2 separate regions of the Homo sapiens genome follow, and region 2 is linked to region 1. The links come from fine-mapping of genetic effects on gene expression. A gene starts in region 1. The other region holds a variant in brackets. All regions are shown on one strand. Distances are from middle to middle.

Evidence for each region. PIP is the estimated chance that this variant, and not a neighbour inherited with it, causes the effect. A credible set is the group of variants that fine-mapping cannot tell apart.
Region 2: its variant is the best candidate, but not a certain one, in a credible set for the expression of RNF214 in non-classical monocytes (Schmiedel 2018, PIP 0.53).

Annotation. Positions count from the first base shown.
Region 1 is chr11:117,230,302-117,235,672 of GRCh38, forward strand. It overlaps RNF214 (ring finger protein 214), which reads left to right and starts at 2,370. Exons shown (of 15, transcript NM_207343.4): 1 at 2,370-2,425; 2 at 3,966-4,078. The coding sequence starts at 3,972. PCSK7 (proprotein convertase subtilisin/kexin type 7) reads right to left here and starts at 1,772. Exons shown (of 17, transcript NM_004716.4): 1 at 1,726-1,772; 2 at 48-167. RefSeq lists enhancers at 461-700, 1,570-1,619 and silencers at 1,810-1,959, 2,170-2,509.
Region 2 is chr11:117,304,303-117,309,673 of GRCh38, forward strand. All of the region lies in intron 1 of BACE1 (beta-secretase 1), which reads right to left. Among named protein-coding and RNA genes, the nearest start is that of BACE1, 9.3 kb to the right of the region's middle. The variant C/A (reference allele first, on the strand shown) is at 2,585.

The sequences.
Region 1 (5,371 bases):
CCAGTTGTCCTCAAGGCTAATTCCCCATAACAGGGCCCCGTGCCCACCTGGATTCTACATGAGGTTGAGCTCCTGGTCTGGCTAACCACGTCACACTCATGTTGTGCAAATGGAGAAAAGGCATCACTTTCACTGTGAGTAGTGTTGACTCAGCAAAGGCTACAGACCTGTGGGATCCAAGAACAGAAGAAATAATGTCCCACCAATCCCAGGGCAACAAGCTGAGGTTAGATAAACTCCAGGACCAGGGACCAAAGAAACTTCATTAATTGTCATTTCCAAAGATCTAAAATCGGTCATAGACTGGAGCAGAACTGGTACGGTGAGGCCAAATCAGTATAACACCCAAAAAACCCACTTCCTGTGCTATCGTGCCACCCTCTTTTCATTTTGTTCCCCAGAGGCCTAGCAAAAAACAGTTACCAAAATGCCTCTTGAAAGAGTAGGTAATAACGTCCTAGAAGTCCAGGTGGTAGCTAACTTCTTGATTTGTATATCCCAGAAGGATACCAGGGAAAGTGAAAGGAGGGAGGCGGCGGGGGCGAAACGGGGAAAGCCAGAGAGTGCAAACAAAACAGAACAGGCACCAAGGACAAGCGGGCAACCAGGAGAGAACGAATGATGAGAGAACCTCACTAAGCAGCTACTCCTGTACTGAGCTCAGGAGGCTGGCTTCAAGGTGAGGACTCAGACTCCAGACTGGGACTCCAATTGCCTGGGTTTGACAGAACCAGGGAATTGGTCTCAGGAGCCCTCAAAAAAAAAAAAAAAGAGCCAAGTTAGAACTGGGGGACAGACAAATGGGGTGGCAGGACATGTGTGTACCTATGGTGGCTGGGCTCCTTTAAAAGCCTTTGCTCTCCACTGGGTCCACCCTGGGGCAGGGCTTAGTACTCAGATACACACCCAAGCGGCTCTACCTCAAAGCATTCCAGAAAAATGGGAATTTTACTGAAAGGCTTCCTGGAAAGGAGAACTTATGCCACCTCTCCTTTACCTCTAAAAATCTTCATACTACATTTCTTCCTCTCGTTTTCTCTTAGGTTTCCAGGCATATTCCCTCTCAATCCCTCCCTGCCCCCGGGAGCCTCAATTCTCCCAAGATATTTAGGTGTCTTCCCCAGTCTGCATACTCTACTAAGTAAACAAACTAACAAACAAAACCCTTGTTAGCCAGACAGTGGCCCCGCTAGGCAGACTCCTTCAGACTCAGTAGATCCCACCACAGATGTCAGGAAGAAAGAGAAGCAGGAGCTCCTTCTGTCTACTAGTGGCAAAGCAGCATTTTTATCCCCCAGGCTTCTGGGAAAGGAACCTTAAATGCCTTCTGAAAGCAGGTCTCAACCTCTCCCAACGGCTAGGCCTCCCTTTACAGCTCTTAATTGACAAGGAAGAAGAGAATGGGCAGCCTGGAGTCCAAGATCCTGCTCCCAAGCTACTGTCCTCGCTGTTCCACACCCGGCTCCTAGAAGCCAGCTTGGGTACCGGGTCAGTTTCCCGATTCTCCCTCCGTCGGCCTCGATCGCTCCGTGCAATGTGCCCCTCTCCTCATTAGCACCCACATTATCCAGGAATTCTGGGCCCTGGGGCCCCATCTCCTTGGTCCCCCACGCCAGGACCTCAGGCACCCTCTGTGCAGCTCCCTCATCCTCAGACGCCGGCTTCCCCCACTTCTGGGGCCCCCTGACCACCCAGGTCCAGCCCCACACCTAGTTCCCAACTCACCGGCCCCGCCGCAGCTGCCGCCGCCTCCCTGCGGAAACTCGCGGCTTCCCGGGAGCCGGAGGAGCAGTGACAGCAGCATCACTTCCGCCCGCGGCGCAGCCAATCAGCGCGGCGCCTGCGGCCCGGCGACCCCCGCGGGCCACAGCAACCGGCGCCCGGGGTCCGGCTCCCGCGGGCGGCCTACGCAGGCAGGGGCCGTGCGGGCGCTGGGGGCTGAACCCGCGGGCTCCGCCTCCCCGAGTCCTCGGGGCATCTTCCACATGGTCCCTCTTCAGAAGGCTCTCCTTCATGGCGTCCTCTGTAAAGGGCATTTCGGTTCCGACCTTTAAAAGCCACTCGTTGCTCTTCTCCTTCTGACCGCCATGGCCCCGACTGTCCCTGTAATCTTCCCAGAGGGGATCCTGCCCACCCAGGTCGCCTTCCTTCTCGCAGTCGGCTCTCCCTTCTTCCCCGCGCCCCGGGAGAGTCCACTTGTATCTCAGGGGTCTCCCGCAGCATCCCCGTGCCCCGGCGGCGCCAGCTGTCGCCGCCAGAGGGCGCCGTCGGGGGCGGCGCGGCGCCACCGCGGCCTCTCCTCTCGCGGCCGGAGCCTCGCCCCCTCCGCTCGTGCCGCCGGAAGTGGGAGGTGCCGCGCGCGGGCCGGCGCTCGACCCCTCCCCCCGTGGCTCGGCCGCCCCCTCCCCCCGCTCCGCCCGCTCAGGTGCGTCCCGTCCCTCCCCCACTTTCCTCCCGGGGGCGCGGCGCGGGAGGTGTGTGCGGGGCGAGCGTGGGTGGGGGTTGCGGGGCGAGGGCCGGGCATGGGGGTCGGGTGGGGGGCGTGGAGGGTGCTGTGAGAACCGAGGCGGGGGTCCCGGCCTAGAAGTGGGACGGGGGGGTGGCTGGCAGCGGGGTGGGGGGACCGAGGGGAAGGGGTGGAGGGGGGTCTGGTCCGAGCCAGCGGCCAGCCTAGCAGTCCCCTGTGGGGGGTGGCCAAGGCCACCCAGCGCCGCTTCCCCCCATTGTCCCCTTCCCGTCTGTCCCCTGTTCTCGCCCGAGGACCCGTGGCTCCGGCGCCCCTGCTTCGCTGGTGGTCGCCCCGGGTTGCGGAGTTCTTTTTGGTACACTCGACCCTCCAGCCAGCTGTTCCTACCCGCGCCACGGGCTCTCTAGCCACGGAGTTGCATGCATGGCCCTTGTCCTGGGGTTTCGTTCACCGGGCGCAGAGGACCCCCCAGCCCTGGGCTATGTTGGAGACGGGATGTTTGCACCTGAGGGAGCAGCAATGGCGGTTTGGGCCCATTTTCTCCCAGGAGCTTTGTATAATGAGGGAAACTGAGGCACAGAGGGTCTGTGGGCTGTGACTGAGGTGTTGACACAGCCCCATCTACCTATCTGCCCTATGCGCTCTTCAGTGTTCCGGGGGGGAATACGTGTGATGCTGTTAAAATAAAAGCAAGAATGCAAACTAACCCGATGTTCATCCCCACCTCCCAAGTATTTTGATTTTCTTTTCTCCTCATAAGGTCATAAGTTTGCTCTGCGGCATAAAAGATGACCTTTTGATTTTTAAAAAAGGCGTCCGTCCCAGTTCCCTTACTTGTGTTACCATGTTTTTTACCTTGACTTTTTCACGCTAGAGAACCCAGGATTCTTTTTTGCACCACTAGTCACTCTGAAGAGTCTGTTCTTTGCTCAGTTAGTGGGTATCAGGCCTTTCCCATCTGTGGGGAGCACGCTGACAGTAAAATATGCACCCTGGATTGCCCAGTATTGCATTACTTGTTGACTTACAGGCAGACACCTCCAAAAACTTCCCTTAAATTAATGGAGAATGCTTTGAATGTAACAGCCATAAAGTGATTTAAAAACATGAGATCTGATTGATACTAGGCCGAAAAGTACGTCTTTTATTAAAAATGATAGCAGACAAGGTAGGCCTGGGACCACTTGGAAGATCCTGGCAGACTAAGATGTATTGTTTGAAATGACTACATTTCTGCCAAAAGTGAAAATAAGATCTTTGCACAGACTCCTAGATATTTATGTAAATACAGTGACTCCTGAGGATTGCTGCCCACTAGGACACTAGGACTTTGCATACAATGTCTCTTTTAGTACTCTTAAGTATTTTCTCCCGGAGCCCAGGTTTTTGTGTTTCTTTACTGCGACAGCTCTGTTGTGTGGACATTCTGAGGGGGGAGAGATACATTTGTTTTAAACTTTGGAAACTTGTAGCCTGTAATTTGTTTCTGAATGTACAGAGCATAATGGCAGCGTCTGAGGTTGCTGGTGTTGTGGCCAATGCCCCCAGTCCTCCGGAATCTTCTAGTTTATGTGCTTCCAAATCAGACGAAGGTCTCCCAGATGGTCTAAGGTAATGTGTGGACTCCTGACTGGGAAGATTCATTTGGGTAAAGGGTTTTTGAGATGGTCTTGTGTAGCTGGTCTTTCTTTTTGGCTCTGATGGCACTGCACTAGCTTTTTAAAGGTACAGGACTGTCTGATCTATCTTTGTATTTCTGGTATCCAACACAGCACCTGATACTCAGCAGGCATGCTAAATGTTTGGGGAATAAATAGAATAGAATACATGGGGTCAAACTCATTAAAAAATGCAAACATTTTCCAGCCCTTTCCTACGTGGACTGTATGTTCATTTAACCATATGTTTATATGTTATATATGAGAAATGTTATATCAGTATGTGTACATGGATATCTAAATATGTATACATACAGATACACAATTACCCAAACTTATATCTCATAGTAGCTAATATGATACATTGTTATGTACAGTGTTGAACTAAATTAGCTATATAGTCATCCCACAGTATATGCTGGAGATTGGTTCCAGGACCCCTACTGAGGATACCAAAATCTATAAATGCTCAAGTCCCTTACATAAAATGGTGTAGTATTTTATCTGGGATAGGCATATGCCCACCCTACTTAAAGCTATTAAAAAGATAAAAAATAAATAAAGTGGTGTAGTATTTGCATATAACCTATGCATGTCCTCCCATATACTTTAAACAATAGGTTATTTACAACAACTAATACAATGTAAATGTTATGTAAATAGTTGTGTTGTTTAAGGAATAATGACAGGTAAAAAAGTTTGTACATGTTCAGTACAGATGCAACCATCCAATTTTTTTCTGAAAATTTTTTTAATGGTTTCAAATCTATTTCACTTTTCTTTTTTTGAGATGGAGTCTCACTCTGTTGGCCCAGGCTGGAGTGCAGTGGCGCGATCTCGGCTCACTGCAAGCTCTGCCTCCCGGGTTTATGCCGTTCTCCTGCCTCAGCCTCCCCAGTAGCTGGGACTACAGGCGCCCGCCACTACGCCCGGCTAATTTTTTGTATTTTTAGTAGAAACGGGGTTTCACTGTGTTAGCCAGGATGGTCTCGATCTCCTGACCTCGTGATCCGCCTGCCTCGGCCTCCCAAAGTGCTGGGATTACAGGCGTGAGTCACCACGCCCAGCCTTTTTTTTTTTTTTTTTTTTTGAGATGGAGTCTCGCTCTGTCGCCCAGACTGGAGTGCAATGGCGTGAACCCAGCTCACTGCAACCTCCGTCTCCTGGGTTCAAACGTCTCCTGGATTCCCTTACCTCAGCCTCCCAAGTAGCTAGGATTACAGCCGCCCAGCACCACGCCTGGCTA
Region 2 (5,371 bases), 74 kb after region 1:
CCCCCAGCTGACGTACCAGCTGAATGCAGCCACATGGGTGAGCCCAGGTAAGATCTGTAGAAAAATTACAAGCCAACACACGGAATCCTGAAAAAATGATTCTTGTTTGGGCCACTAAATTTTGGAGTAGTCTGTTACCCAGCATCAGATAACTGACACAAACTATCTGAATTAAATCCTGGGGTCCTTGACCCTGAAGGCACCAACCATAGGTCAACCCCGTGAACATCTCTTGCCAGTTCCCTTTCCTCACCAGGCTTCTTGTGAAGTTTCCCGAAAGCACGATGATCTCTCACTTGTGCATCTTTGCATATATTTGTCTGCAGCATTCTTTCCCTGTTCTCATGTTCACATTACACTTTAAATATCCTTTCTTCAAAGGTCTTGTCCTGACGCCCAGATAAGATTAGGTTCTTCCTCTTGCAAATCCTCAGTAGCACCTGTGCTTCTTTGTCTACCACTCACACTTTTAATCATGTATTTAATGTCTGCCTGTCCCACAGACTATGAGCTCCACCAAGGGTAGGGAGCATTTGTATTGCTTATTACCTAATTGTTACCTAGCCCTGAGTAGATGCTCCGTAATGATTTTTTTTTTAATTGACAGCAACTGCCTCATTCCCTGCAGTTAATTCCTATGACCCTATGGACTCTTCCTATTCTTTTTTTTTTTTTTTTGAGGTGGGTTCTCACTCTGTCACCCAGGCTGTAGTGCAGTGGTGCAATCTTGGCTCCTGCCTCAGCCTCCCGAGTAGCTGGGATTACAGGCACCCGCCACTACGCCCAGCTAATTTTTGCATTTTTAGTACAGACGGGGTTTCACCATGTTGGTGAATATCCACCCAGGGTCCTGTGGTTCTTAGAGCAGTTATAGTGACTCCAGGCCTCCTTAGTCCCAGAACCTTGTGAGTCAGCTTCATCTGCTTTTCCTAAGTGATTTCCAGACCTGAGCTTACCCAAGGCTGAGAAAAGGGGGCAAGGAAGGACAAGAGGAGCCTAAAGTCAGCAGCGGGGAGGGGCTTATGGCCAACAGAGCACACAGCTCCTGTCTCAGAGTCCAGCGACTGGGTCCTGTCCAGGTTCCTCCCACCTTGAACAAATCAGCCAGCCCTGTGCAAATGGACTCCTTTTCCCAGCTAGTTCCTCTGCCTTCCACTTGCCTCTCCTGGCTGTAGCTGGCCATTGGTACCTGGGAGCAAGCAGGCTCCCTGGCGCCACTTACCCCACCTCTGGCTGGTTTTTCAAGGAGTCCCAATGTGGCTGGGTCGCCCCAAACCTTATCTAGTATACCTTTCCCCCTTTGGATGGGATGCCCCATTTCTCCGCAGCCTGTAACCCGGCTCAACTAATATTTGCCAGTGCCTCCTACTCCAATAGAATGATGGATGTCGATGGTCCAAGAGTTTATGACAGTAATTTTCAAACTTTTTTTTTTCTAAAGCAGCAGAATCAGCCGCGCGCAGTGGCTCACGCCTGTAATCCCAGCACTTTGGGAGGCCGAGGCGGACGGATCACAAAGTCAGGAGATCGAGACCATCCTGGCTAACACGGTGAAACCCCGTCTCCACTAAAAAATACAAAAAATTAGCCGGGCGTGATGGCAGGCGCCTGTAGTCCCAGCTACTTGGGAGGCTGAAGCAGGAGAATGGCGTGAACCCAGGAGGCGGAGCTTGCAGTGAGCCCAGATCGCACCACTGCACTCCAGCCTGGGCGACAGAGTGAGACTCCGTCTCAAAAATAAATAAATAAATAAAAATAAAAAATAAAGCAGCGGAATCCTTTTCCCCTTTTCCAATTGTATGCAGGATCCTAGTGTACAAGAGAGAAAAAGACAGAGGTGTTCTGTTTGAAGGGGAGGTTTGATTTCCTCTGCTTCCCTCCCCTGCCTGTGCTGGCTCTTGAGGCATCTCTTCAGCACCTTTAGCCTCTGCGGAACCCACCTGGAAAACCCATGCTCCACAAGGTATCACAGCAGCTATTCGCCACCTGTTTTTCATGGTCAGACAGTAAGTCCTTCCTGTTATTTAACCTTGTCCCACCCACAGGTTACAGTGGCTTGAATCTTCTCTTGCTCTGTCCTCAGTTGAAAATGAAGCTGACCATGGCACCTGTGTCACGCTCAGCACATGGGCTTGTTTATTCAAGCCATTGGGAGATGCTAGAACTCACTCCTTGTCCTACCTGTCAAAACCTCCACAGGCCTTGGAAAAGAGTAAGTGGTAGGGCCAGGCACAGTGACTCACGCCTGTAGTCCCAGCACTTTGGGAGGCTGAGGTGGGCGGATCACTTGAGGTCAAGGAGTTTGAGACCATTCTGGCCACATAGTGAAACCCCGTCTCTACCAAAATATATATATAAATTAGCCGGGTGTGGTTGTGCGTGCCCGTAGTCCTAGCTACTTGGCAGGCCGACGCTGGAGAATTGCTTGAACCCAGGAGGTGGAGGTTGCAGGGAGCCGAGATCGCGCCACCGCACTCCAGCCTGGGCAACAGAGTGAGACCCTGTCTCAAGAAAAAAAAAGAAAAAAGGCTAAGTGATGAGATTCACTGACCTTGAAAGACCAAGCAAGAGGACACCCAGCCTA[C/A]AGTGCGCAGCAGAGAGGGTGGCCCCAGAGTGACAGCAGCTCAGGAAATATGGTGACAGAGGATAAGTTGGCATGGGAGGAGGCAGAGCTTGGCCAGTTTGCTTTGAGGAAAAGGACCTAGGAGTCCCAGCTCCCCCACGTCAGAATCCCCCCAGTTCTGCTGATTTCCTCATTCTCCCCAGCACAGCCCAGCTCTCCTATTTTGGGAAACACCTGGCTATAGTACCCAAGGCTGCGGTACTAAGGATGTACTCAGGTGCTGTCGCATCCTGCCAGGAGAATCTCAGGGCAGCTCCAGAACTCAGAAAATGTTCTGGTTCCTTCCCAGAACTCTCCCCTGCCCAGGCACCTGAAAGAGAAGGCTCCCAGGAGAGACAGAAGTTAGTCATTAGGTATGGGGGCTTCCCTGGGAGGTGTTTCTCTTCCTGGATTTTCTTTTTTTGAGATGGAGTCTTCCCCCTGTCGCCCAGGCTGGAGTGCAGTGGCATGATGTTGGCTCACTGCAACCTCCGCCTCCTGGGTTCAAGCGATTCTCCTGCCTCAGCCTCCTGATTAGCTGGGATTACAGGCACGTGCCACCATGCCCAGCTAATTTTTGTATTTTTGGTAGAGACAGGGTTTCACCACGTTGGCCATGCTGGTCTTGAACTCCTGACCTCAGGTGATCTGCCTGCCTCGGCCTCCCAAAGTGCTGGGATTACAGGTGTGAGCCACTGTGCCTGGCCTCTTTCTGGATTTTCAACTGGAATTTTCTGCCCAGCCCTTTATTGGAGAGGCCCAAGAAGGGTTCCTGACCTTCCACCTTAGTGCTTTTAGAGAGAGCACAGTCTTTCTCAATGCCCCCTCACTCCCAGCTAAACTCTTCTTTACTGGTCTGGGGAGTAGAGGAGAGGTTTGGAATGACAGGATGAGTGCTCCAGCAAGGGCTTGTGTGCAACCCGAGGCCCAATCCAGGAAAGCCAGTTGTGGTGGCAGGGACTGGGTAGGCAACTTATGGAGCCGGGGTCTTGCTGGCTTTGTCTAATTTGGAGGGTGGTTCTTTGAGCTCGATGGTTTTCAACCTTTTTATTGCAAAAACTCTTTTTTAAAAAAATATAACCCAGAAGTCCACTGTATAAAAACAATAAAAGCAAAGTTATCCTGGGATGCTCAGGAGATTTGGGGCGGGGGGATGGGGATGGCTTGGTGACAGGAAGGGCGGGGATCTAGAGTGTTGACTGCTCCCAGCCTTCTCCCTCACCGCTGAGGTCCCTTTACAGAACCCTGCCAAGCAGGGAAGGAGAGGAAAAAAAGAAAAACCACCTGGTCCTTCTTGGTTTCTGAGACTCTGAGCCCTCATAGTTTTCTACTGCTCTGATCATTTTCTCTTGCTCCCTTGTCTATACCTAATATTCTTTTCCTAATCATTTTTCTCCTTTCCCTCTCTGTTCCCTCAAAGAACAAGTCTATTTTTTAACTTGGCCTCTCTGTGGATGAGTCCTGTCTGCCTGTCCAGTTCTAACTTCTCTCCAGATTCCCACTGTCAGCTGGTGGCTGAATACTTCCACGAGGATGACCCACTAGCATCTCAAAGGCATGTCCCAGATCGTAGAACACAGGAAGGAAAGGCCCCGGTATTTGAACCCCTACTCTGTTCTTCTTAACAGAATCACTTTGGACAAGACACTTAGTCTCTCTGGGTCTCAGTTTCCTTATCCCTGAAATAGATATGCTAATACCTATCCCTTATAATTAAAGCAGAATAATAAACATAAACTTTGGTAAACTATATTGTACTTCCTGGCTGGGTGCGGTGGCTCATACCTGTAATCCTAAGACTTTGGGAGGCTGAGGCGGGCGGTCACTTGAGGTCAGGAGTTTGAAACCAGCCTGGCCAACATGGTGAAACCCCCATCTCTACTAAAAATACCAAAAAAAATAGCTGGGGGTGGTGGCGGGCACCTGTAATCCCAGCTACTTGAGAAGCTGAGGCAGGAGAATCACTTGAACCAGGAGGTGGAGGTTGCAGTGAGCTGAGATCGCGCCACTGCACTCCAGCCTGGGTGACACAGCGAAACTCCATCTCAAAACAAACAAACAAACAAAAAAACTATATTGTGCTTCAAAAGCTTTCCCCTGTTGCTTTGTTCCCTGACAAAAAGTCAGAGAGGTTAAATAAAGCCATCATCTCCTCTTCCCTCTCTCTCACCCCATACATCTCATCAAGCGCAGAGAATAACTGGTTAAACGATGGATGAATGCTGATTCCTCCTTTCTACCCTCACTGCCACCATCCTCTTTCAGGCCCCCGTATCCTGAGATCCTTGTTTGCATGTCTAGAGTCATGATGCTAGACTCTCCAAGTTATTCTGCACACTGAAGCTGTTTTCCTGGAACTAAAATTAGACGATATCATCCCTCTTCTCGTATACCTACAAGGATTCCTTACTGTTTGCAGAATAAAACCCAAAGTCCTGTCAGCCCCATGGCATCCCCACCATGCCTTCTGGCTTCTCACCACAGTTCACGCTTTTCTTCATGAAGTGCTCCTCCTCACCACTCTCCATATTGCAAAGCTTTCTCCTCTTTCAAATACCTCCGTTTTGGCTGGGCGCGGTGGCTCACGCCTATAATCCCAGCACTTTGGGAGGCTGAGGCGGGTGGATCCCTGGGCGAGACTCCCTCTCAAAAACAAAAACAAAACAAAACCCTCCTTTTCCAGCAAGCTGTGCCTAATACCATGTCAGAAGTAGCTGCTTCTCTCTGTGCACTTCCAAGATCCACTGTTTCACTATTTGTACCAAATGC